Homo sapiens: one gene and its partners. The protein of the gene in region 5 purifies or fractionates together with the protein of the main gene of each other region. This does not show direct contact. Each region holds a gene or a part of one and is shown on either strand. Other genes may lie near its edges.

The links.
Region 1: the proteins of GPR55 (region 5) and TMEM201 purify together in Homo sapiens (affinity purification with mass spectrometry; one large-scale study listed by BioGRID and IntAct). This does not show direct contact.
Region 2: the proteins of GPR55 (region 5) and ABHD17B purify together in Homo sapiens (affinity purification with mass spectrometry; one large-scale study listed by BioGRID and IntAct). This does not show direct contact.
Region 3: the proteins of GPR55 (region 5) and ATP13A3 purify together in Homo sapiens (affinity purification with mass spectrometry; one large-scale study listed by BioGRID and IntAct). This does not show direct contact.
Region 4: the proteins of GPR55 (region 5) and COQ8B purify together in Homo sapiens (affinity purification with mass spectrometry; one large-scale study listed by BioGRID and IntAct). This does not show direct contact.
Region 6: the proteins of GPR55 (region 5) and TM9SF4 purify together in Homo sapiens (affinity purification with mass spectrometry; one large-scale study listed by BioGRID and IntAct). This does not show direct contact.
Region 7: the proteins of GPR55 (region 5) and EARS2 purify together in Homo sapiens (affinity purification with mass spectrometry; one large-scale study listed by BioGRID and IntAct). This does not show direct contact.

The regions. Positions count from the first base shown.
Region 1 is NC_000001.11:9,605,911-9,609,410, forward strand, and holds part of TMEM201 (transmembrane protein 201), read left to right. Parts: intron 1-1,646; coding exon 1,647-1,879; intron 1,880-3,500. UniProt on the Homo sapiens protein: Critical regulator of angiogenesis and endothelial cell (EC) migration. Promotes the migration of endothelial cells, which is essential for angiogenesis.
Region 2 is NC_000009.12:71,866,194-71,869,693, reverse strand, and holds part of ABHD17B (alpha/beta hydrolase domain-containing protein 17B), read left to right. Parts: intron 1-2,687; coding exon 2,688-2,907; 3' UTR 2,908-3,500. UniProt on the Homo sapiens protein: Hydrolyzes fatty acids from S-acylated cysteine residues in proteins. Has depalmitoylating activity towards DLG4/PSD95. Has depalmitoylating activity towards GAP43. Has depalmitoylating activity towards MAP6. Has depalmitoylating activity towards NRAS.
Region 3 is NC_000003.12:194,428,003-194,431,502, reverse strand, and holds part of ATP13A3 (polyamine-transporting ATPase 13A3), read left to right. Parts: intron 1-276; coding exon 277-399; intron 400-480; coding exon 481-560; intron 561-1,187; coding exon 1,188-1,230; intron 1,231-1,321; coding exon 1,322-1,431; intron 1,432-1,728; coding exon 1,729-1,825; intron 1,826-2,585; coding exon 2,586-2,658; intron 2,659-3,500. UniProt on the Homo sapiens protein: ATP-driven pump involved in endocytosis-dependent polyamine transport. Uses ATP as an energy source to transfer polyamine precursor putrescine from the endosomal compartment to the cytosol.
Region 4 is NC_000019.10:40,696,387-40,699,886, forward strand, and holds part of COQ8B (atypical kinase COQ8B, mitochondrial), read right to left. Parts: intron 1-3,500.
Region 5 is NC_000002.12:230,918,743-230,922,242, reverse strand, and holds part of GPR55 (G-protein coupled receptor 55), read left to right. Parts: intron 1-3,500. UniProt on the Homo sapiens protein: G-protein coupled receptor that binds to several ligands including 2-arachidonoyl lysophosphatidylinositol or lysophosphatidylglucoside with high affinity, leading to rapid and transient activation of numerous intracellular signaling pathways.
Region 6 is NC_000020.11:32,161,714-32,164,734, forward strand, and holds part of TM9SF4 (transmembrane 9 superfamily member 4 isoform 1 precursor), read left to right. Parts: intron 1-3,021. UniProt on the Homo sapiens protein: Associates with proteins harboring glycine-rich transmembrane domains and ensures their efficient localization to the cell surface.
Region 7 is NC_000016.10:23,550,851-23,554,350, reverse strand, and holds part of EARS2 (nondiscriminating glutamyl-tRNA synthetase EARS2, mitochondrial), read left to right. Parts: intron 1-2,046; coding exon 2,047-2,202; intron 2,203-3,500. UniProt on the Homo sapiens protein: Non-discriminating glutamyl-tRNA synthetase that catalyzes aminoacylation of both mitochondrial tRNA(Glu) and tRNA(Gln) and participates in RNA aminoacylation for mitochondrial protein translation.

The DNA of each region.
Region 1 (3,500 bases), on a different chromosome or scaffold from region 5:
AACGGTACTCTCAGGTCACTGGGGGACCTGGTCACCCTTGGCTGACTCTTGGCTATGTCTGTGCTGCCGGGCAGGGTGGGCACAGGAAGCCTAGCGCAGAGCCCTGCCCCACAAACTCCCTCCCATGGAGGGTCATGCCCCAAGGTCCCAGCAACACCTTCACTGCCCCTGCCTAAAGGTGCCCTCAGGGTCATTCCCTGAAGTCGCTGCGCTGTCCCGCCAAATGGAATCAGAATTCTAACATGACGACACAAAACCTCATCTTCTGTGTAGAGGTGGAGCCTTCCCTGGAGTCTTGGGGGCAAGCAGCGGGCGCTGGGCCTGGGAATCACAGGTCAGCAGGCGGAACAAGGATGTGTCCAGTCCGGCTGACCGGGGCCTTCCCCAGGGTCCCCAGCTCAGCTCCTGCCTTGATGCCCACATTCGCCAAACATGGCCTCGCCTTTGGTTCTGAAGTCCAGGTGGTCTCCTGGCACCTTGGAAGGCATTAGAAAGGTTACATGATTCTCCGGGAAGTCAAGAGCTGGCCCCACACTTTCCTTATAAAACTTTTTTAGAGGGAAAGTAGCAGGGAGGTTGGTGGCGCGCGGCTTGGCTAGCGATCCCCGAGCATGCAGTCATGCTGGGCGCAGGTCCCTTAAGCAGCCCCCGGCTCCTGCAGGGCGTGGGCCAGCCTGCCCGCTCACCAGCACGTTGTCCACTGGGCTCATTTGTCCCTTGGCACCGAGGTAAGGCTGGACCCCCGGAGCTCCGTCCAGACGGTGGACTAATGTATTAACTGCCTCTGTCCCTCTCTTCCCTCTGTAATTGGGTGCCTTAATCAGAAGCATGGTTGACGTTCTGGCGTGGGGCCATCAGGTCCTGTTGTGTGATTTGTACCATCTCGAGTTAAAGAGACACTGTCACCTTCCGTCTTTCGGGCAGCCTTGCGGTCGTGGATGGGTCTCTTCTAAGTTCGGTTTTGGCGTTGTCCTGTGAGAGCCTCTTCCAGGGGGTTCCAAGGCCTGGCTGCCCCCCAGTTCTGCTCTACCAGGAACTTCAGAGGAGTTTCCAGAGTGCAAGGCCAGAGAGCAGGAGGCAGCCTTCTAAGGGCAGAGCTGTGGGAGGACTTCCAGGAATCACACCTGGGAACAGAGGGTGCCCAGAGCCGTGCTGGGGCCTGACTTCCTATGATCCAGGCCCATCTGGGAGATGAGCCAGGATGTCCCTGAGCCCGGCCGCTCTGTGGGAAGGCTCGGCACAGAACAAGAAGTGGCAAGGAGTCCAAGTCCATTAACCTTCATTGAGTGCCTGGCACGGGGCTGGGCATTTTTGCTTCAAGGCGAAAGGGTTGGCATGAGGTTGGCAAAGGCGACAGTGTCACTTTAATACCGAGACTCGTAGTGGAGATAGTTTGCTGTGAGCCGAGGGGGTAGGAGGGGGCATGTGGGGAGGGCCGGGTCTTGCTGGCACCTCCCAGCCACCCGCTCCTAATGGCGTGAATGTGGTCGGATTGCTTTTCTGCTTTAACTAACGCACGCCTCCTCTGGGACCCCAGCTGAGGCCCCCACCTTGCACTGTGGGAGAGGGGTGGGACCCACTGCAAGGCTGCCTCCAGGACCTCCCGCTGACCCTCTTCTTGTCCCGTGCCTGACGGGCCCTTGCAGGTTCTTCCCAGGAGACTCTGCCGGCCTTTTCCCCACCAGCCCCAGCTTGGCCATCCCTCACCCGAGTGTCGGAGGCTCTCCAGCGTCTCTGTTCATCCCCAGCCCGCCCAGCTTCCTGCCCCTCGCCAACCAGCAGCTCTTCCGGTCTCCTCGACGGACCTCACCCTCCTCATTGCCTGGCCGCCTCAGCCGGGCCCTCTCTCTGGGAACCATACCCTCTCTGACTCGAGCAGGTAAGGGGTGCCCAGGCATTGGCAGACAGTCAGGGCTAGGGGCAGCTGGGACAGAACTGTGGATGGGTACATAGTGTAGGGAGGGCCGGGAGTGGTTAGTGTTCCTGCTGCAGAGACAGGCAGCACAGAGCTTTGAGCCTCAGTTCCCCCCAAAGAAATGGGGCTAGCTAGGAATAGGTGGCTCATGCCTTTAATCCCAGCACTTTAGGAGGCCAAGGTGGGAGGATGGCTTGAGGCTAGGAGTTCAAGACCAGCCTGGGCAACATAGGGAGACGCTGTCTCTACAAAAAAAGTTGTTTTAATTAACTGGGCATGGTGGCGTACACCTATAGTCCCAGCTATTTAGGCTGAGGTGGGAGGATCGGTTGAACCCAGGAGTTGGAAGCTGCAGTGAGCTATGATCACGCCACTGCATTCCACCATGGGCAACAGAGCAAGACCCTGTCTCAACAAAAATAAAAATAAAGTGCCCAGAATTGCCATATCATCTGGGAGCCCCAGCACGGCCCCTTAGTCCCAGCTCTGGTGACATGACCTTGGGTAAATGTGTGCACCGTGCTGTGCCCTAATCTTTTCCTCTAAAATTGCAACATGCCCCTCAGCAAAGGGGGCCACTCTAGTTATTCTAGGGGAGGAGATGCTGATAACAGCCAAGGCCCCTCTCCTCTCGTGCAGTTACAGGGCAGGCCATTTTGTACACACGCCAAGGTTTATATTAGGATGCTTTTGCTTTTCCCCTAAGCAGAGATACCCCCCTATTTTCAGGGCACCCCAGCCTGGTGGCACTTGAATGGAACTTGGGGTGGGAGGTGCCAGGAGCAGCCCTGCCCTGGGCCTGAGCACTCCGAGTAAACTCTGTGCGCACTGACCAAGGTGGCAGAGCTCAGGGACTTCTGTTTCAAGCCCCTTGGGAGGGGAGCGTGGCAATCCCAGGGCCAGTTCAGGCCTCCAAGGCAGGGGCTCCTGCCCACAGAGAAGAACAGGCAATCTCCCTGTTAAGGCTCAAGGCAGGGACACAGTAGCGACCTGTCTGAGGTAGCAGCAGAGGTCTTGGGGCGCAAGCTTGTCTTGGAGTGTCCGGTGACAGATGGGACCCCAGTCTCCATTACCAGAGTGGGTCGGGGGGAGGAGCCCGGTCTCCATCGCCAGAGGGTGGGTCGGGGGCAGGAGTTCCTGCAGGGCTTTGGCTCATGTATTCAGAGACGCGCTGGACCGGGCTCAGGTGCTGTGGCCAGAATCCAGCTTGCTGTCTCCCTGTCTGTCCTCAGTCCGCTTCTCTGCCACACACCTCATCCCTGTGTCCTGCAGCCCATGCCCAGCAGGAAGACGGCCTCTCCCAGCATCCATAGAATGGATTCTAGAAGGACCCTGGTTGGCATGCTGGGTCCTTGTGACCACCCTTATCCAGCCTATCCCCTGGCCTGGTGAGGGGAGGGTTATCTGCATGCTGCAACAGACCCTTCAGAGCCCACAGGTGGCAACAGGACATGAGGCAGTCCCTGGGTCCCACATTCAGCTCTCAGCCAGCCACTTGGAATTGGGGCCCCTGCCCTTGGGGTGCGTGCGCCTGATTTAGGAAAAGGCAGCGTGGTTGGTGATCCCTGGGATCGAGAGAACAGGC
Region 2 (3,500 bases), on a different chromosome or scaffold from region 5:
GACACTTGATGTTAGAGAAGAACAGGTAGAAGCTAAAATGAGTAAATATCTGATTAATGATACCTAACTTACAAAAGAAGTGAATTGAAAAAAAGTTGAATCTTAAATTAACTAGATTAGTAAGTATTGCTGCCACAAAACCTGCAAACATACTTAGATGTATTTGAAAGGAAAGTAGCTACTTTTCCTTCATGCTTCTCAAGACAGGAGGTAGTTCCCACCTACTCTTCATAGTTGGAAAAAATTAATGGCCTATTTTTCTCAAGGAGAAGACAAGAAATAAGTTGGCAAATTTTAGTTTTCTCTCCTTTCTCCAATTGGCAGCAATACAAAGGATTTTTTTTGTGAATGGCCGATGGGCCAAAGGCAAAGTCATCACATGGTTCAAGAATTATTTTAAAAACACAGAATTTTCATCATTAGCCAGTAATGGATCACTTTAGTAGGGAAAGTATGTGAACACATGATCTTATCACAAGGGCAAGCTGTGGGCATGTTTGGGTTTTTATTTTGTTTTGGGTTTGTTTTTGTTTCAGGTAATGTGGGTATAGGCATTATACTGCCTCTGTCTAGCTGAATGGTAAAAATGATAGGGATGTATCTGAGTATCCCCATATCAGTGTTGTTGTCAACTTATGTCTCCATCTAGCTCCCTCTTTCATTTCTGGTGCACCAACAGAGAGCAACACTAAAAATAAACTGTTTGGCCAGGCACAGTGGTTCACGCCTGTAGTCCCAGCACTTTTGGAGGCCGTGGCGGGTGGATCACTTGAGGCCAAGAGTTCGAGACCAGCCTGGCCAACATGGTGAAACCCCGTCTCCACCAAAATTACAAAAATTAGCCAGGCATGGTGATGCGTGCCTGTAATCCCAGCTACTCGAGAGGCTGAGGCATGAGAATCCCTTGAACCTGGGAGACAGAGATGGCAGTGAGCCAAGATGGTGCCACTGCACTCCAGCCTGGGCGACAGAGCGAGACCCTGTCTCAAAAAATAAAAATAAACTGTTTGAAAAAGATAATATACTTCTTTTTATTTTTTATTCAAGTTTTAATTCCTCTACCGCTGAACATCTTTCTGACAACAGATAGTAAACCCAAGTATTTATTCTTACCAAATGCAGCCTTAGATTATTTCATTGATGGTTTTTTCATTGTCAACATTCCATTTTCATTTTATGTTTATTATAATACCTTTCTCTAAAGATTCTTAAAAAGAATTGTCTGTGTAGTTTCTGTGTCCTCCAAGTTGCCTTTTAAAAAAGTGTTTGTTTTGATTCCTCTGTTATTTGAAGTGTTCTCCTCTCATGTCTGATAATTCTTGGTTGCCTGCTTATATGTAAGTAAAGGAGCTGATCAACTCTTTACTCTTACATATAAGCAGACAATCAAGATTTAGCAGATCAACTAAAGGGCTGATCTGATAATAATCTCCAAAGAAGGCTCTTTCTTTCTTTCTTTCTTTCTTTTTTTTTCTGAGACAGAGTCTCGCTGCGACACCCAGGCTGGAGTACAATGGTGTGATCTTGGCTCACTGCAACCTCTGCCTCCAGGGTTCAAGTGATTCTCCTGCCTCAGCCTCGCGAGTAGCTGGGATTACAGGCATGCGCCATCATGCCTGGCTAATTTTTTTTTTTTTTTTTGTATTTTTAGTAGAGACGGGGTTTCACCATGTTGATCAGGCTGGTCTCGAACTCCTGACCTCAGGTGATCCACCCACTACGGCCTCCCAAAGTGCCGAGATTACAGGCATGAGCCACCGCACCTGGCCCAAAGAAGACTTTCTAAAAGTCCCTCCTGGAGGACAGTGGCCTGACTACCAGCATTCTGGGAGCCACATAGGGAAAATGGGTTCATAGTAGCCAGTATGTAAATGTATATGTTTCCATTGTCTCTATGATACCTCTGTTCTAAACTCTGGCAGTCTTCTAGTTCACAGACATTCCAGTCTTGGGGGCAGGCAGTTTCTGGGTATATGAACAGGCAAAAGGAACTGGGAAGGGGAGGCTAACTTTCTTACACAGACTTTGCAAAAATCCTGTATATTTCAATCACCCCCTTCATCACCATGGTAATTCCTTAGCTTTCTGGGGTATTCTGTTGTATAAATTGGTTTCGTTCATCACTTTACCATCTATCTGCCTAAAATTGTGTTTTCTTCTTTTAATAAATTGTTTCACACATTAATCTTCTTTCCAGCTCCAACATTTTATTATATTTTAGTACATTCTCCTTGTTTTTGTATCTTTATCCTCAAACAAGAACAAAAACATAAAACATTTTGCTGTCATTTTAGTAGGAGACTAGGAGAAAGAATATAGTGAGTGCAGAAAGTGAAATTAGCGCATACTTGAAATGGTTCTTAAATTTTCTCTTCTTCTGGACACCTAAGTTTCTCTGTGCCAAAAGTCAACATTGTAGAAAGGTACAGTAGAGTGACAAGAGCATTGAGTGATTCCAGCAAAACCATCAAAACAAGTGCATGAAAATAACTTCCTCAGATAATCTTAAGGTAGGGAGTATGTAAAAGGCAATTTTTGAATCTTACTGGAAATTCAGGAGACATTCTTACCTTCTGAACTGATTCATACAATTCTCATATTTGAATTATCTGTCTGATATAGCACAAGAATATGTTCCTTTACATAGTTAATTTATTGCATTTTTCCCCCTTCCTTTTTCCCTGCAGCATTGACAAAATCTCTAAGATAACCTCTCCAGTATTAATAATTCATGGGACTGAAGATGAAGTCATTGACTTTTCACATGGCCTCGCATTGTTTGAACGTTGCCAAAGACCTGTGGAGCCTCTCTGGGTTGAAGGAGCAGGTCACAATGATGTGGAACTTTATGGACAGTATCTTGAAAGGTTGAAACAGTTTGTGTCACAGGAACTGGTAAATTTGTAAAATATTCTGTAAATTTGCTACTGGGTTTTCCTTTCTTGCTGAACTGCACTCTTTGGTAAATAACATAAAACCTGAAGGTTTTGTTTGCAAATCATGTCAGTTGCCTTCATAAATGTACAGGTAATGATTTGTTAACAGACTTAATGAAGGTTTTAATTACCAGAACTAAAAACTGGAAATAACAGTACCGTGCAGTCAGGCTGTGTAATTTATATTTTTTCTGTGAATTTTTTTTTAACATCAAGATGAGTACTGTATGAGATTTTAATTCTATAAAATCAAATGCTGTAAAAGTATTGCCAAATGCTTTTGCATACTAGAAACAAATTTATAAATATTTTTAAAACATCTCAATATATTAAATCTTATCCTGGAATACAACTGTAATATTTTGAAAAAAGCTATGTATCTAAAGCAATTTAAGTACTCATAATGGAATGAACTGTAAAAGAGATTTAAAACCATGCAAGTTCACTAGAATTAACCTAAACCCTGTTGTACAGGGATAGAGGTTTAAAGTTATTTTATTGTAAAATACATTGAATTTTCTGTATACTCTGATTACATACATTTATCCTTTAAAAAAGATGTAA
Region 3 (3,500 bases), on a different chromosome or scaffold from region 5:
GTTTTAAAGTACAAGAATTCCAGATGTTTATCGTATTCTTCAGGTAACTAGTGGTAAATGATGCAGGTGGTCCATCATACTCAGTTCATGCATCATTTCAAATTGAAGCTGATATTTAATTGAGTTTCTTTTTACTTTGAATAAATGTCCGGCTTTCATCATGTTGTGGAACATATCAAATGAAAGAATTCAGTTTTAGAACAAATATGTTTAAAATAGAATTGTTTTACTTGGTTTGGTTGCCTAAATATTGTTCCCAATGTCTCATATACACAGGCTATTCCGGTTAAATTGGTCCATGATAGCTTAGAGGATCTTCAAATGACTCGTTATCATTTTGCAATGAATGGAAAATCATTCTCAGTGATACTGGAGCATTTTCAAGACCTTGTTCCTAAGGTAAGTAATTTGGGTGTATGTGTGTGCTCACATGAATGCATCGCAACAGTATTTTAAAAAAATTTGTATTATTGTTTCCAGTTGATGTTGCATGGCACCGTGTTTGCCCGTATGGCACCTGATCAGAAGACACAGTTGATAGAAGCATTGCAAAATGTTGAGTAAGTATTGGTGTCTTTTTTGGTTTTGGTTTTTGATGAATGATGGTTTCATTTCAGCATCAGAAAAATAATTTTTATATGTTTCTTATACTAATATTTCATATTTATATATATAATTGTGATCTATAAGATAGTTCAGAACTTTAAGTGCCGCTTTAAAAGAGTCTCATGTGCTTTTTATTTAGCTAAAGTACAATATCCACAGTTTTTTCTCTATGACTTCATTCTTTCAGGTGCTCTATCTTGATAGAAGTGGCTAATCATTTTAGTAAACAGTTATGTTTCAGGTTATTAAGGGATAAATTTTTACTGATAACGTTAAAAGTAGCCATACTAAAGACTGTAGGCACAAGCGCTTTGCTCTAAAGATGAGGAAATTGAGACACCAAAATGATTTGCCGATAATGTGACAGAAATAGGACAATAACCTAGCTCATTTCACTTGTGGTCTGGTGCTGTTTGCAAAGCAGCACACCTGTGTTCATTATAGTGAAAAGATTCATAGTTCCACTGGGGGAATCTTGGTGTGTTAGCTCTTTATAATACTGTAATAGAAAAGTCTTAATAAGTTAAATGTTTTGTAGTTTAAGAAATTAATTAAAATCTTAACATTGTTTTGTTTCTTAGTTATTTTGTTGGGATGTGTGGTGATGGCGCAAATGATTGTGGTGTAAGTATAGTTTTTGTGATTTAGTTTTATAGTTCTTACTCTAGCCTAAATCATATTCACAAAACTTAACCAGTTTTCTTAAAATTATTAGGCTTTGAAGAGGGCACACGGAGGCATTTCCTTATCGGAGCTCGAAGCTTCAGTGGCATCTCCCTTTACCTCTAAGACTCCTAGTATTTCCTGTGTGCCAAACCTTATCAGGTAGTACAAATTAAAATTTTTCTCATCCCTTTTTCTCTGTCTCTGATAATACAGAAGAGAAAATTATCATAAAAAGTAACATGAATTTGTTTAATATTAGCAGATTAGCACATTTGAGCTGTAACTTATTAGTAACAGATTGATTGCTACTCCTCATTTGGTTTAGTTCTTTTGGTGGATAAGCACTTTGTTGTAGCCGTTGAATGTTGATGTTCATCTGTCAAGATAAAATTGTGGTTTGGAAAAGGAGTTTAAAATGCTTCTATTCATATGCCGACATTTGATTTCTTTTCACAGGGAAGGCCGTGCTGCTTTAATAACTTCCTTCTGTGTGTTTAAATTCATGGCATTGTACAGCATTATCCAGTACTTCAGTGTTACTCTGCTGTATTCTGTGAGTATTAACATTGTGTGCAGAGATAACACTTAATGTGCACCGTAAATTAAGATGTTGAGCGTATGTGTTTGATTTTGAATGCATCCATTAGTAATTGTTTCTGTGAGTAGTACCTATAAATTTACCTTCAATTTACTGTAGTTTGAATAGCAAATTGAAAAAGTTAAAATGAGAAAAGATGTTTCAACAGTGGTTTGTTGAATTTGGAGAATGGTTTGCATTTGGAGAAAAAGTATAAACAGCGATGGCCACAGGTACCCTATCAGATTTTATAATCAAAGTGTTCTGACATCCTAAAGACTCATGGTGACACTATCCCATTTGACCGTTTGTAGAAAGTATCAGAAGGGATGGTATTAGATGAAGATACTAATTTACAACGTTGAATATTTTGAGTAAATGTTTGTGTTTTCTTTTTGCCAAAAAAACCATGTTGGCCAGGGTGGTCTCGATCTCTTGACCTAGTGATCTGCCCGCCTCGGCCTCCCAAAGTGCTGGGATTACAGGTGTGAGTCACCGCGCCCAGCCTATTGAACGAATTTTAAGGAGATGCCTTTTATACTAATATACTAAATCAAATATTTATAAATATATGTTATATTTAGTTTCAGAGACACTTATATTTCAATTTTTAAGCAGGTCCGAGTGTCATTTTTAAGTTGTCATTATAGGGAAAATCCAAACTATTAATAAAACCTGGGGACGCTATAAAAATAATTCCCAAAAACTAATAATGTTTTTAAAATTACTTCTGTAGATCTTAAGTAACCTAGGAGACTTCCAGTTTCTCTTCATTGATCTGGCAATCATTTTGGTAGTGGTATTTACAAGTGAGTATTTTGCTTTGTTATTGATTTTTAAAGTGTATGAAATTCTGATGTGACTTATTAAATTTTTGTAAATTTACATCAACAATTGTAACATAGCTCACACCTCTCCAGATTCCTTGTAAATATGTTATTTTATTACCAGTTGTTTATATCTTGCGCCAATTTTTTAATTGTTCTGTCTCTATTTTTTTCCCTGAAATATTTGAAAATAAGTTTTGAGTCATTATGCTCTTTTGCCTCTGACAATTTTAGTATATATTTTCTAAAAGCAAAACCATTCTTTTATGTAACTAAATACAGTTGTAAAGATCAGGAAATTTAACATTGATATAATATCTGGTGCAAAACCTATATTCAGGTTTTGTCATTTGTGTCAACAATGTCCTTTATGCCTATTTTCCCGTAGTCCCCTAGATTAGAACAAAAAATATCTCCAGACATTGCCAGATGCTCCTTTGGGGTGCAAAATCCTCCAGTTGAGAACCACTTATCTTTAGTAGATGATAAAACTAGTGAAAGTTTGATGAGGAGCAGGATTTTCACAGTCTCAAAGTATCTTTTCACAAGGTGCTAGTTACAAAGGGAAAAATAGAAATTTCTTTTTTTCTTTTTTTTTTTTTTTTTGAGACAGAGTCTGTCTCTGTCACCCAGGCTGGAGTGCAGTGGCACGATCTCAGCTCACTGCAACCTCCGCCTCCCGAGTTCAAGCGATTCTCCTGCCTCAGCCTCCTGAGTAGCTGGGATTACAGGTGTGCACCATCATGCCCTGCTAATTTTTATATTTTTAGTAGAATCGGGGTTTCACCATGTTGGCCAGGCCAGTCTCTAACTCCTGACCTCAA
Region 4 (3,500 bases), on a different chromosome or scaffold from region 5:
CCACACGTGGTGGCTCACACCTCTAACCCTAGCACTTTGGGAGGCCAAGGTGGGTGGATCATGAGGTCAGGAGTTTGAGACCAGCCTGGCCATCATGGTGAAATCCCGTCTCTACTAAAAATACAAAAATTAGCCAGGTGCGGTGGTGCGTGCCTGTAATCCCAGCTACTTGGGAGGCTGAGGCAGGAGAATGGCTTGAACCTGGGAGGTGGAGGTTGCAGTGAGCCGAGATTGTGCTATTGTACTCCAGCCTGGGCAACAGAGTGAGACTCCGTCTCAAAAAAAAAAAAAAATACTCCCCATCCACGTGGAGCCTCCTGTGTATCCCGCCCTGATCACACCTCCCCCAGGTCCCCAGGGTCACCTCTTTCCTACAATCATTATTAAATTATTTCCTGAAATTCTCATTTATGCATTTCTATATTTTCTATGTATGTGTACAGCTGTAAACAATCTAGAGTAATGGTGTGCATATTTTCAAACTTCACAGAAGTGGTATTTACTGTCGTTCTCCTGCAACTTGTGCTTTTTGCCCAGCATGGTTTTGCGATTTATCCCTGTTGCCATGTGTCGCTCCAGCTCAGTCACTCATTTCACACTGCTGTGTAAGGACTTCGTTGCGTGAATCTATCACAGTGCATTTATCTGGCTGAGGAATACTGTGGTTGTTTCTGATTTTTTTTCCTTCTTTTTAAATATGTTTATTAGTTATAAACTCTGTTCTGACATTTTTTTTTTTTTTTGAGACAGGGTCTTGATCTGTTGCCCAGGCTGGAGTGCAGTGGCACGACCATGGCTTACTACAGCCTCAAACTCCCACGCTCAAGTGATCCTCCCGCCTCAGCCTCCTGGGTAGCTGGGACCACAGGTGCACCCCACCACACCTGGCTAAGTTTGAAACATTTTTTGTAGAGATAGGGTTTCACTACGTTGCCCAGACTGGTCTCGAACTACTGGGCTCCAGTGATCCTCCCACCTCAGCCTCCCAAAGTGCAGAGATTACATTAGTGAGTCATCTCACCTGGCCTGTTTCTAATTTTTGTGCTCAATGAACACCTGTAAGAATGTTTCTAGGGCAGTAGAGTTTGAACTGACCACAACCCACAGTAAGAAATTGTTTCTACTGGTGGCTGGGCGTGATGGCTCACACCTGTAATCCCAGCATTTTGGGAGGCTGAGGGGGGCGGATCACCTGAGGTCAGGAGTTCAAGATCAGACTGGCCAACATGGTGAAACCCCACCTATACTAAAAATACAAAATTAGCTGGGTGTGGTGGCGCACGCCTGTAGTCCCAGCTAGTTGGGAGGCTGAGGCAGGAGAATCACTTGAACCCAGGAGGTGGAGGTTGCAGTGAGTCGAGATTGTGCCACTGCACTCCAGCCTCCATTCTCAACAAGAGCAAAACTCTATCTCTAAACAAACAAATAAATAAAATTATATATATATATATATATATATATATATAGAGAGAGAGAGAGAGAGAGAGAGAGTTTCTACTGGGCGTTCATGCAAATGCACACAAAAACGTCAAACAAAAGTGTCCCAAGGCCAGGCGCAATGGCTCATGGCTGTAATCCCAGCACTTCGGGAGGCCAAGGCAGGCGGATCACCTGAGGTCAGGAGTTCGAGACCAGCCTGGCCAACATGGTGAAACCCCATCTCTACTAAAAATACAAAAATTAGCTGGGCGTGGTGGCAGGCACCTGTAATCCCAGCTACTTGGGAGGCTGAGGCAGGAGAATTGCTTGAACCTGGGAGGCGGAGGGTGCAGTGAGCCGAGATCACACCATTGCACTCCAGCCTGGGTGACAAGAGCGAGACTTCATCTCGGGGAAAAAAAAGAAAAGTGTCCCAAAATAATATGGATCCCTCCCATCTGTGACATACTGACATCATCTATTCCATAAAAAAAAAAAAAGTGCTGGTGGATCATGAGGTCAGGAGTTCAAGACTAGCCTGGCCAAAATGGTGAAACCTCATCTCTACTAAAGATACAAAAAATTAGCCAGGTGTGGTGGCGGGCACCTGTAATCCCAGCTACTTGGGAGGCTGAGGTGGGAGAATTTCTCGAACCCCAGAGGCAGAGGCTTCAGTGAGCTGAGATCGTGCCATTGCACTCCAGCCTGGGCAACAAGAGCAAAACTCTGTCTCAAAAAAAAAAAAAAGTCCTGTTGGAAACCAATAAATTGATGTCAGGACTCCTATCACTTGGAGTTGGGTAAACATATCCCTGGGGTATGAACCTAGGAGGGGACACAGGGTGTATGCACATTGTGGAGAAAGAAGAGGCAAGGGACTAGGGCTGGAGACTCCGTGGGGCCACAGGATGCTCAGCAAAGGGTTCAGACTTGATTCTGAGGGGGCTGTGAAGCTGTAGGAGGGATATCTTGACCAGATTTGTGCTTTAGAAAGACCCCTCTGGGGACAAAATGGGGATAGACCACTTTGGAAAACAGTTGGCAACCCCTGATAAAGGTAATGATGTATCCACCAACACTCAAGTCTGCAGGTCCAAACCTTCACTACAGGTCTTTGTACACCCCCTGCCCTCTGCTGGGAACACTCTGCTCTCTGGATGGTTGTCTCCTTTTCCCCTGTCCCATCTCAGCCTTTTTTTTTTTTTTAAATAGAGCCCAGGCTGGTTTTAAATTCCTGGCCTCAAGGGATCCTCCTGCCTCAGCATCCCAAAGTGCTGGAATTACAGGCATGAGCCACCATGCTCAGCCTCTGGTCTCAGCTTTTTTTTTTTTTCTTTGGTGAGACAGAGTCTCGCCCTGTCACCCAGGTTGGAGTGCAGTGGCATGATCTTGGTTCGCTGCAGCCTCGACCTCCTGGGCTCAAGCCATCCTCCCACCTCAGCCTCTCAGTGGCCTCAGCTTTAATGGCACTTGCTTTAAGAAGCCTCCCTTAATCCCTGCTCACCCCACAGTGAGTCAGGCACTTTCCCTGGGATCCCATAACTTCCTGTGCCTCCCCCAACTCCAGCCCCCACCCCTCTGCCTGTGCCTCCCCCATCCCGGTCCTGACCCATCTGGCCTGTGCTCCTCATTGTGGTTGGTACGAACCACTCTAGGTCATCGCTGTGTGGTGCCAGGTCCCCCCACTGGACTGGGCACTCTGAGAAGGCAAGGGTCAGGGATGTCTTTTTATTGCTGTCAAGAGGCAAGGGCAGGTGATGGTGTGTTCTGTATGGATGACGAGTGTGGTAGTGATGGCTAACTGCCTTCCAAAAGCTGTACTTCCCCTCTGTGCTGTCACATTGCCACCAGGAACCACTGCCTAGCCAGGGACTCCATTTTCCAGCATGCCTTGCACCTAGGCAGGCTATGTCACTAGCTCTCACTGATGGAATGGCAACGGAAGTGCTATGTCCATTGCCCCAGGATGAGCTTAGTGTATTTAGCCTGGGCATTACTTTTTCCACTTCTGGCCAAAGCAGTTAGGCAGGGGGCTACCCTCAACCTCTCTTACCCTTTCCTTGGGAAGCAGAGCGTTGCAA
Region 5 (3,500 bases):
ACACGTCACATACTTTCTCTCCTTTTCACCAAACATTGGAAAACAGCCTTATATTGAAAGGAGATTCTACTTCAGGGTTAAAAATCAACAAACAAAAACACCCTTCAGTAAGACACGGCTGTGTGCATGAATTCCCTCTACAGCACCCTGGATAAGCACATAGCCCTGCCTTTGCTTGCATACCTCTGGTGACAGAGAGCCCTCCACATGACGAGGCTGCTTTGCTTTGTCTACTCTCAGACACTCTGGCTGCGAGATAGGTTTGCTTTCTGCAGCACCTGGAACCCATTCCTTTTCTGACCCTGTGAAGTCTTATGGTGGAACACGTCACGATCACTGGAGGATGGATGACCTTGTGCCTTTCCCTCTAGGGATTAGGAGCATCTCTAGGCCTTTCTGCATCTTCTCCCATGCTGTGGTTCCCTAGCCCCTCCGAGTTCAGCCCCTGCAGACAGACAGCCTCGGGTCCTAGGGTGATCAGAGCTGTGCATTGGCCATGGTCACTCCCATTCCACTTCCAGGATCTTTGAGTGTAGCCTTGGCTCACCTCGTTTCTCCCTTTCATGTTTAAAAGAACACTTAGGAATTCCCACTTTCCTTAAAGTGGTGACTGCGTTTGTGTTTTGTGTATAAATATTGTTTCTTTACAATATTTCAGCAATGTACGTCTGATTTTGTCTCTGACTCACACGTGAAGAGCCTGTGTAAAAGAATGCATAGAAATGCCTGTATTTTTAATATGGCACTGCAGCTAAGTGGTCAGGACCAACAAACAGCTATTTTCTTTGTGGTCCGAGAATGAGGAGTGTAAAATTGCCATTGCCTGTGCTCGGGAATGGGGTAAATTTTGTGAAAGACACTTCTATTCTTCTAAAGAGAGCATAGACCCTTGATTTATGATGTACTTCTCCCTGATCTGCTAGTCTACCTTATTAGTTGGGTTGTTCAGAGCTCTAATTTCTGTCTATTTTGATCATGGGTATTCCACAGGAGGGGCACTAAGGGCTCCAGCTACATTATATTTCCATTTTTTAAAATTTCTTTTGCATTTCCTGCATGGTCCCATTATGTACTTGTTTGCTGTGCTAATTGGAACAGAAATTGAGTGTTTTAAGTTTTCATTATTTATTGTAACTTTCACTCTTGTGGAGTCTCCATGTTACTTTCTCAATTCTTTTTACTAAAAAAAAAATTACTTTGTCCTATTCCCTTCCTTTCTAGCACAAAATGTGCCTGATAAACCAAAGATTATGCTATCATTTTACTCTGTGTCTTTTCATTTTCTTAGTGTTTTTCCTTGACAAAAGATGATTGAATTTTGTTTTTTTTAAATTGATGGTTGGTTTTAATAGATTAATATAGGGAGTATTAACAATTGTTTATAAATTTGCATAAACCTCTGTGAGGTTGCCCCTCTGTTTTCTATATTGTGATATTATAGTTTTTTCATTTTCAGTTTCTACTGTGAATCTTCTCTTCCTTTTGTCCCGTTAAGATAGACAAGGTGATTTAACCTAAATATTCAATTTGGAAAATATTTAAGTTCTTAACTTCTTGATGCTATTGATAGCTTGCCAAGCTTTGGGGGAATTATATTTTAAATCTCTTTTCTTACCTTCACCTACTCTTCACTATGAAGCTGGCATTTTGTCTCTTTTATGTCGTCTTTTACTGCTTATGTAATACACATTTTTATAATGTGATGGCTGACCTGTGAACAGAGGAAACTTGTTTATTTTTCAATTTTTTTTTAAAAAAATCATGAATCAGGTTCTTGTTGCTGTTCTCCCATCATTTGGGTGGGATTGCTGTCTCACTTGACACTCCCACATCTCTCTCTCACTTCATGCTTCGTTCCCAGCCCCATCTTGAAATGCTCATCTCTGACCCTGAAAGGTCATGCCTCATCAGCTGAGCTTTGGTGAATTCAATGCATAACTTTTAATTTTGTGTAAACCTTGCGCCCTGCCATGCCTCAAACACAAACCCAGACCACAAGTTGTTTCTCTGATACAGAAGGAAAAAATTGAAAGCTATCCTTACTGGTCTCCTTTTTCCCCACCAAGCATTATATATATATATTTTTTTAATCTCAGGTTTTCATATTATCATTAACTAATTAGAAAAGCACACACACACACACACACACAAAAGACAGAGATAAAGATAAAAGATTTTAAAAATCACCCACCTTCCAACTGCTAGAATGCAACCACTGGTTGGGATGTAGAAATCTTTTTTTAGGTTTTTTTTTTTTCCCCTCTATGCGTGGGTTTTTGTAATTTTAATCACAGTTGAAATCATTCTGAATGTCTAATTCTATAGTTTGTGGGGTTTTTACTCAACATAGTCAGCATAAACATAACAGTCAGACAGAAAAATTTTCCATTGAGTAAATTTACCGTAGTGAACTTAACCTCTTGTTGGCATTTACATGTGTGTATGTATTTTTTACTATTAGAAAAAAAGTAATGTGGTAATACAGTGAGGCAAAGAAGAATAAGAAGAAAAAATGCCAAGGTGGACATATTTTTGTACACAATTTTTCTTCTTTCATATAATTTACTTAAGGTGAATTCTCAGAATCACTGGATTAAAGACATACAATTTTCATGGCTTGTAATAGAAATTATCAAATCCCAAAAGTGGTGTGCTAATTTGTACACTTACTAGCATATTGGTGACTGGTTTCACAGAACCCTTGCCAAATTCTTTGTTAAATTTGATAAGCAAAAATGTTATCTCTTTGTAAATCCTCTTCTGGGAACTGCCTATGTCATTGGCTTGTTCTTCTATTGTTGTTCTTGATGTTATTCATTTTAATATTCTCTTCTCAGAGAAAGAACGTCATTTGTCTAACATTGATTGTGTTTTGTTTCTTCGAGTACATTATTTGATGTTAAGACTTTTTAGCAAAAAGAATTTTTTTTGTGCAGTCAAACCTGTCCTGTTTATTTTCTGTTTCTTTGATTTTCAGTTATGCTAAGTTGACAAAGAGCTTTTCCCTTTAGTGATTTTATAAGTTGTTTATTAAATTTTCATCTAGTTTTTCTATGATTTGATTGTTTTGAAATGTAATTCCTTGATGAATTTGGAATTTCTTTTGAGATACCGTGTAAGATGAGACTCTAAGTTGGTTTTTACTCCCAAATTGTTAACTGACAGTCTTAACATAATTCTTAACATAATTTCTTAACTAAGCCTTCCCTTTGTATTATTGATTTTTGTGGAATGCCTCATTTATTCTTGCTTCTGTTAAATGTGTTAGTGCATAGTCTGAGATTTTTGGGTTAGTAAATGTCTGATTTCAACAAGAATGTCCCTACTATTTTACCATTAAATACAAAGTTGTCATTGGTGTGAGCAATTTACTCTTTGTAAGAAGTACTTTCCTGTTCCATTAGTTAAATAACTCAAAAAACTATTTATACAATTGGATGACTTTTTATTTTTGCTCTAATGATGTGATACAAAACATTAATTGATTTCCTAACACTGAA
Region 6 (3,021 bases), on a different chromosome or scaffold from region 5:
GGAAAAGATAAGAGTAACATGAAAGAAGAAAAGTAGAAAGGAGTTAATAAAGATAAAAGCACAAAATGCTGAAATAGTCTAAATAGTAGAACCCAAATTTAGGGCTGCAGGTATCCTGTCTCTGCAGGTGTTCTCTTCTTCACGCAAGTACTGTTCAATCCTGCAGAGTAAGGAGAGGATGGGAAAGTTTTTCACAGGCACCTCGGAGCCCTCCTAACTCTGTGACCCCACATAGGTAAAGTGTGGCCCAATAATAAGAGGGAGCCAGGCTTACCTGACTAGGGCAACTCACAGAGCTCATTGTCCCGAGAGAGAGACGTGGGCAAGAATACAGATGTCCCCACGACAGTTTTACTAGATTCATTCATGATACACAAACCAGATGAGCCATTGAGAGGAATTTGGAGGAGCCCTGTTGGGCCCCTCACCTCCAAAACTAATACTCAAGACTTACTCTGACCTGCTGTACTTTGGGTCTCCAGAGCCCAGAAGCAAGCAGTCCTCTGTGGCAGTCAGGCGTATTTGCAAAATAGAGTTGTAGGTCAGTTGATCGAAGCTGGGAATGCCGTTTCCCAAAAACAGTCAAGTTGGAAAAGACTGGAAGGATCATTTAGTGTAGTGCTGTACCCCTACCTCCAGTCTGGTGACTGTGCCCCTCTTCTCTAACAGTCTCAACAGATGATTCTCTAGCTCAGGGGTCAGCAAACTGCAGCCCGCGTGGGCCAGCAGGCCTGTTTCTATAAATTTTTATTGGAACACAGCCATGGTCATTCATTAACATATCTGTCCATGGCTGCTTTCACACTACAATGGCAGAGTTGAGTAGTTGCGACAGGGACCATATGGCCTGCAGAAACTAAAATATTTACAATCTGGCCCTCTAAGTAAAAGATTGCAGACCCCTGCTCTACTACATCCAGCAACAGAGAAGACACTCCCTCCTAACATTCCCATTCTTTCTGGACAGCTCCTGTCATTATCAAGGTCTTGATTCACACTGCAGTCTCCCTTGCTGTGACTTCCATCTTTAGACCTTAGTCTTAATTCTGGGATCATCTAGAACAAATCTAATCTCCCTCCTCTATAGCCCATATTAATCATAACTCTCATAAGTGGCAAGTGACTAAAACTCTATCAAAGTAGCTTAAGCAAAAAAAAAGGGAAAAAAAGTAGCTTAAGCAAAAAGAATGTATTTGCTTATATAACTGGAAAGACTAAGAAATTGGAGTTCTAGCCTCAACCATGCTTAGATCCAGAGTCTCAAAAATATCAGGGCTCAATCCCAGCACTTCGGGAGGCCGAGGAGGGTGGATCACAGGGTCAAGAGATCGAGTCCATCCTGGCCAACATGGTGAAACCCTGTCTCTACTGAGATACAAAAAATTAGCCGGGCGTGGTGGTGCACGTCTGTAGTCCCAGCTACTCAGGAGGCTGAGGCAAGGGAATCGCTTGAACCCTGGAGGCAGAGGTTGCAGTGAGCCAAGATCGTGCCACTGCACTCTAGCCTGGGTGACAGAGCAAGACTCCATCTCAAAAAAAAAAAAAAAAAAAAAAAATATATATATATATATATATATATATATGTATGTATGTATGTATGTACACATACATACCAGGGCTCTGTGCCCACGCCTTAGCCCTGTGTATCTTTTTTTGGCCTCAGTCTGCAGGCAAGATCTTTTCACAAAGTAGAAAGATGGCCAGTGGCAGCCCTAGAGTCTACTCTTTCCAGCTTTGCAGCCCTAGAGCTAAAAGACTGTCTTTCGTCTACCATGATACGTCAGCCAGTGAAGACACGCTGCTCTGCTCGGGTGACATGCCCAGTGCTCACTGTTTTCCAGGTCCAATAGCATCACATATTCAGACAGACTGGCTTAGGTCTTGTGCTAGGAATTTTTTTTTTTTTTTTTTTTTTTGAGATGGAGACTCGCTCTGTTGCCCAGGCTGGAGTGCAGTGGTGCGATCTTGGCTCGCTGCAGCCTCTGCCTCCCGGGTTCCAGCGATTCTCCTGCCTCTGCCTCCTGAGTAGCTGGGGTTACAGGTGCACACCACCACGCCCGGCTAATTTTGTGTTTTTAGCAGAGACAGGGTTTCTCCATGTTGGCCAGGCTGGTCTTGAACTCCTGACCTCATGTGATCCGTCTGCCTCAGCCTCCCAAAGTGCTGGGATTACAGGCGTGAGCCACCGCACCTGGCCTATTTTGTGCTAGGATTGATGGCCCCAACAGGACCAGGTGTTTTGAGTGTTCCTCAAAACATCTGGAATATGGAAGACAAGGAACACGGTTAAACAAAACTAGAGATCACATCACAGCCTCTTGTCCTTCCTCCCTTCTGCTCCAGTCTTCTTGCTCTGCTCAAAAAATCTCTTCCTCCAGCCCCAATGCCTTATGTATAAAATGAGGAACTTTCTGGCTCTGCCTCTTTGCCTCGTCCCTTGCCTCCTTTTACCACGGTTCTGCTCCTTGTCCCTCCCCCACCCCTCCCCCGACCACCAGCCACAAGAATGCATATAACAAGAGATGGAGGCTGGGTGCATATGGTTCACACCTATAATCCTAGCGTTTTCAGAGGTGGGAGGATAACTTAAGTCCAAGTGTCTGAGACCAGCCTGGGCAATAGAGCAAGACACCATTGCTAGAAAAAATATTAGCTGGGTGTGGTGGCACACACCTATAGTCTGAGCTACTTGGGAGGCTGAGGCAGGAGGATCCCTTGAGCCCAGGAGGGTGAGGCTGTAGTGAGCTGTGATCATGCCACTGTGCTCTAGTCTGGGTAATAGAGGGAGACCCTGTCCCTTTAAAGAAAAGGGGTTAGGGGAGAGATGCGGGGCTGAGCCTGAAAACATGGCCTTCACCCCTTAGGCTTAGGAGAGGGCTTCAAATGGTGACCTATTTTGTTTTCTTTGTTTCTTTACTGTTTTCTTCTGGGCTACTGGCATTCTGTGACCATGTGTCTGCCTGTGAGTCCTGGGACAGGCCCTACTCAGGCCCTGGGCATATCTTGATACCAAGGTTCCAC
Region 7 (3,500 bases), on a different chromosome or scaffold from region 5:
GTTTAAAGCCAGCAATTAGGGTGAAAATCTTGGCAAGGCATGGTGGCTCATGCCAGTAATCCCAGCACTTTGGGAGGCTGAAGTGTAAGGATTGCTTGAGCCCAGGAGTTTGAGACCAGCCTGGGCAACATAGTGAGACCTTGCCTCTGCAAAAAAAAAACCAAAAAACAAATATTAGCCGGGCATGGTGGTGTACACTTGTAGTTCCAGCTACTTGGGAGGCTGACGTGGGAGGATTGATTGAGCCTGGGTGGTTGAGGCTGCAGTGAGCCGTGACTGTACCACTGGACTTCAGCCTGGGCAAGAGTGAGACCCCATCTCAAATTTCAAAAATGAATTTTGTTTCTTTAAAAAAGTAAAAATCTCAAGTAGATGAAATTTAAAATGTACGACGTGGACAGTCATGCACACTGCATAGACTGCATATGCAAAATGTGATTTTTTTTTTTTTTTTGGAGATGGAGTCTCGCCCTGTCGCCCAGGCTGGAGTGCAATGGTGCGATCTCGGCTCACTGCAACCTCTGTCTCCTGGGTTCAAGCAGTTCTCCTGCCTCAACCTCCCAAGTAGCTGGGATTACAGGCGCCCACCACCATGCCCAGCTAATTTTTTTTGTGGTATTTTTAGTAGAGACGGGGTTTCAACATGTTGGCCAGGCTGGCCTCAAACTCCTGACTTTGTGATCCACCCGCCTCGGCCTCCCAAAGTGCTGGGATTAAAGGTGTGAGCCACCATGCCCCACCGATTTTTTTTTTCTTTGTAGAGACAGGATCTCACAATGTTGCCCAGGCTGGTCTCAAATTTAGAGACCCAGGTGATCCTCGTGCCTCTGCCTCCAAAAGTGCTGGGATTAGAGGTGTGAGCTACTGCACCTGGCCCACAATATGATTGTACAGTATTTTAAATTTCTAGTTTGTTTGTAATTAATTTTTTTCCCAGCGCACATCATTGAATTTCTGTAAGTTAAATGTACATGATATGGCCTCAATGAATAACTCTCTGCTTCTCTTTCAGGCGAAACTTGGCCTTGAGACAAATATCAAAATAGAGTGGTGGATGCAGTTGGGGAAAATTGGAGCCTTTTAATAAAATGACATGCTCCAAATCCTGGGTGGTTTCCATTTTCAGGATGAGGGATTAAATGTGTCTGGAGACAGGGCACAGGGGTAACTAGTTCTTAGTCTTTGAAAAAAAATTTTTTAATTTTTAATTTTTTTTGTTTGAGACAGAGTCTCACTCTACTGCTGCCCAGGCTGGAGTGCAGAGGCGTGATCATGGCTCGCTGCAGCCTCAGCGTCCCCAGGCTCAGGTGATCCTCCCACCTCAGTAACTGAAACCACAGGCATGTACCACCATGCCCAGCTAAATTTTTATATTTTTTGCTAAGACAAGGTCTCACCATGTTGCCCAGGCAGATCTCAAACTCAGGCCAAGCACAATGGCTCACGCTTGTAATCCCAGCACTTTGGGAAGCCAAGGCAGATGGATCACTTGAGGTCAGGAGTTCGAGATCAGCCTGACCACCATGGCAAAATCCTATCTTTACTAAAAATACAAAAATTGGCCAGGTGTGATGGCTCTTGCCTGTGATCCCAGCACTTGGGAGGCCGAGGCTGGGGGGATCACTTGAGGCCAGGAGTTCAAGACCAGCCTTGCCAACATGGCGAATGCCTGTCTCTACCAAAAATACAAACATGTAGCTGGACGTGGTGGCACACACCTGTAATCCCAGCTACTCGGGAGGCTGGGCATGAGAATTGCTTAAACACAAGAGGCAGAGGTTGCAGTGAGCCAAGACTGTGCCACTGCACTCCAGCTTGGGTGACAGAGTGAGACTCTTGTCTTAAAAAACCTACAGGAACCTCCTGGGCTCAAGTGATCCCCCCGGCCTTGGCCTCCCAAAGTGGTAGGATTACAGGCGTGAGCCAATGTGTCCTGCTGGTCTTTTAAATTTATTGCAACATTCTGTCACAGTAGTGCTTACTTGCCCCTTGCTGAGGCCTATTAGCTTATCTTCCCTGTCTTATCTGAGCTGTTCTCTTCTCCAGGCTTCTTGCACCTGGGTGGCCTCCGCACTGCCTTGTACAACTACATCTTTGCTAAGAAGTACCAGGGGAGCTTCATCCTGAGGCTAGAGGACACAGATCAGACTCGCGTTGTGCCTGGGGCAGCGGAGAATATTGAGGACATGCTGGAGTGGGCAGGTAAGCCTGGCAGAGAAAGGATCTTTCTGCAGGGAAGGAACAGGAAGCAGGAAAAGGAGCCTGTGGGTCTTCTCATGGAGTTCTGAGTGGAAAATGGGGAGTTCCTGGAGAAGTGGCTACATTTGTACTGCCCTGCCCGGGGTGGCAGATGACACCTGAAAAAATGCCGAAGCTCTCTGAAACACAGCTCCAAGACTGGTTTCTTTATTTTTATTTATTTATTGTTTTTGAGACAGAGTCTTGCTCTGTTGCCCAGGCTGGAGTGCAGTGGTGCGATCTCGGCTCACTGCAAGCTCCGCCTTCCGGGTTCACGCCATTCTTCTGCCTCAGCCTCCAAGTAGCTGGAACTACAGGCGCCCGCCACCACGCCCGGCTAAGTTTTTTTGTATTTTTAGTAGAGACGGGGTTTCACTGTGTTAGCAAGGATGATCTTGACCTCCTGACCTCGTGATCCACCTGCCTCGACCTCCCAAAGTGCTGGGATTATAGGCATGAGCCACCGCGCCCAACTTGGTTTCTTTATTTTTTAATTTTTTAGAGTCAGGGTCTCATTTTGTTACCCAGGCTAGAGTTCCATGGCACAATCATAACTTACTGTAGCCTCGACCTGGGCTCAAGTGATCCTCCACCTTAGCCTCCCAAGTAGTTGGGACTACAGGCACGCACCACCACGCCTGGCTAATTTTTAATTTTTTTGTAGAGATGAGATCTCACTGTGTTGCCCAAGCTATTCTCAAACTCCTGGGCTCAAGCAATCCTCCTGCTACAGCCTCCCAAAGAGCTGGGATTACAGGTGTGAGCCACTGCCAAGGCTGTTTTGAGATTCCTGTTTTCACCTCAGAATCTCAAGTTCATTCCCTACAGGGGCCAGGCAGGAAACACAGGGCCAAGTGGGAACTGGAGGAGCTGGGCCAGTGCTGAGCTGTGAAAACCACACCTCATCCAGAGTTGGGAGTGCCTCTGAGCTCCAGCTCCTTGTGCCCATGCGGGAATGCTGGCCCAGCTTGTCCAATCCTCTGAGTTGCAAGAGGAGCCAGAAATCCAGTTTTTCTGGATGAATACTTAACCATTATTAAATCTGGGCTCAGATTTTTTTTAACCATGTTGTATAAGCCACACAAAACACGTACAGCTTCTGAAGTTGATCTTGTGGGAAGTTTTATCCTGAGGACAGCTAAGGTCAGGGAGAACAAAGAGGAGTGTGTTTCCTTTTCATGGGTCGACAGTTGTCTACCTGTATGGACGGGTGTGACTAGGAAAGGGGAGATTCCCAAGGAAAAATACCAAGACTCTGCTAG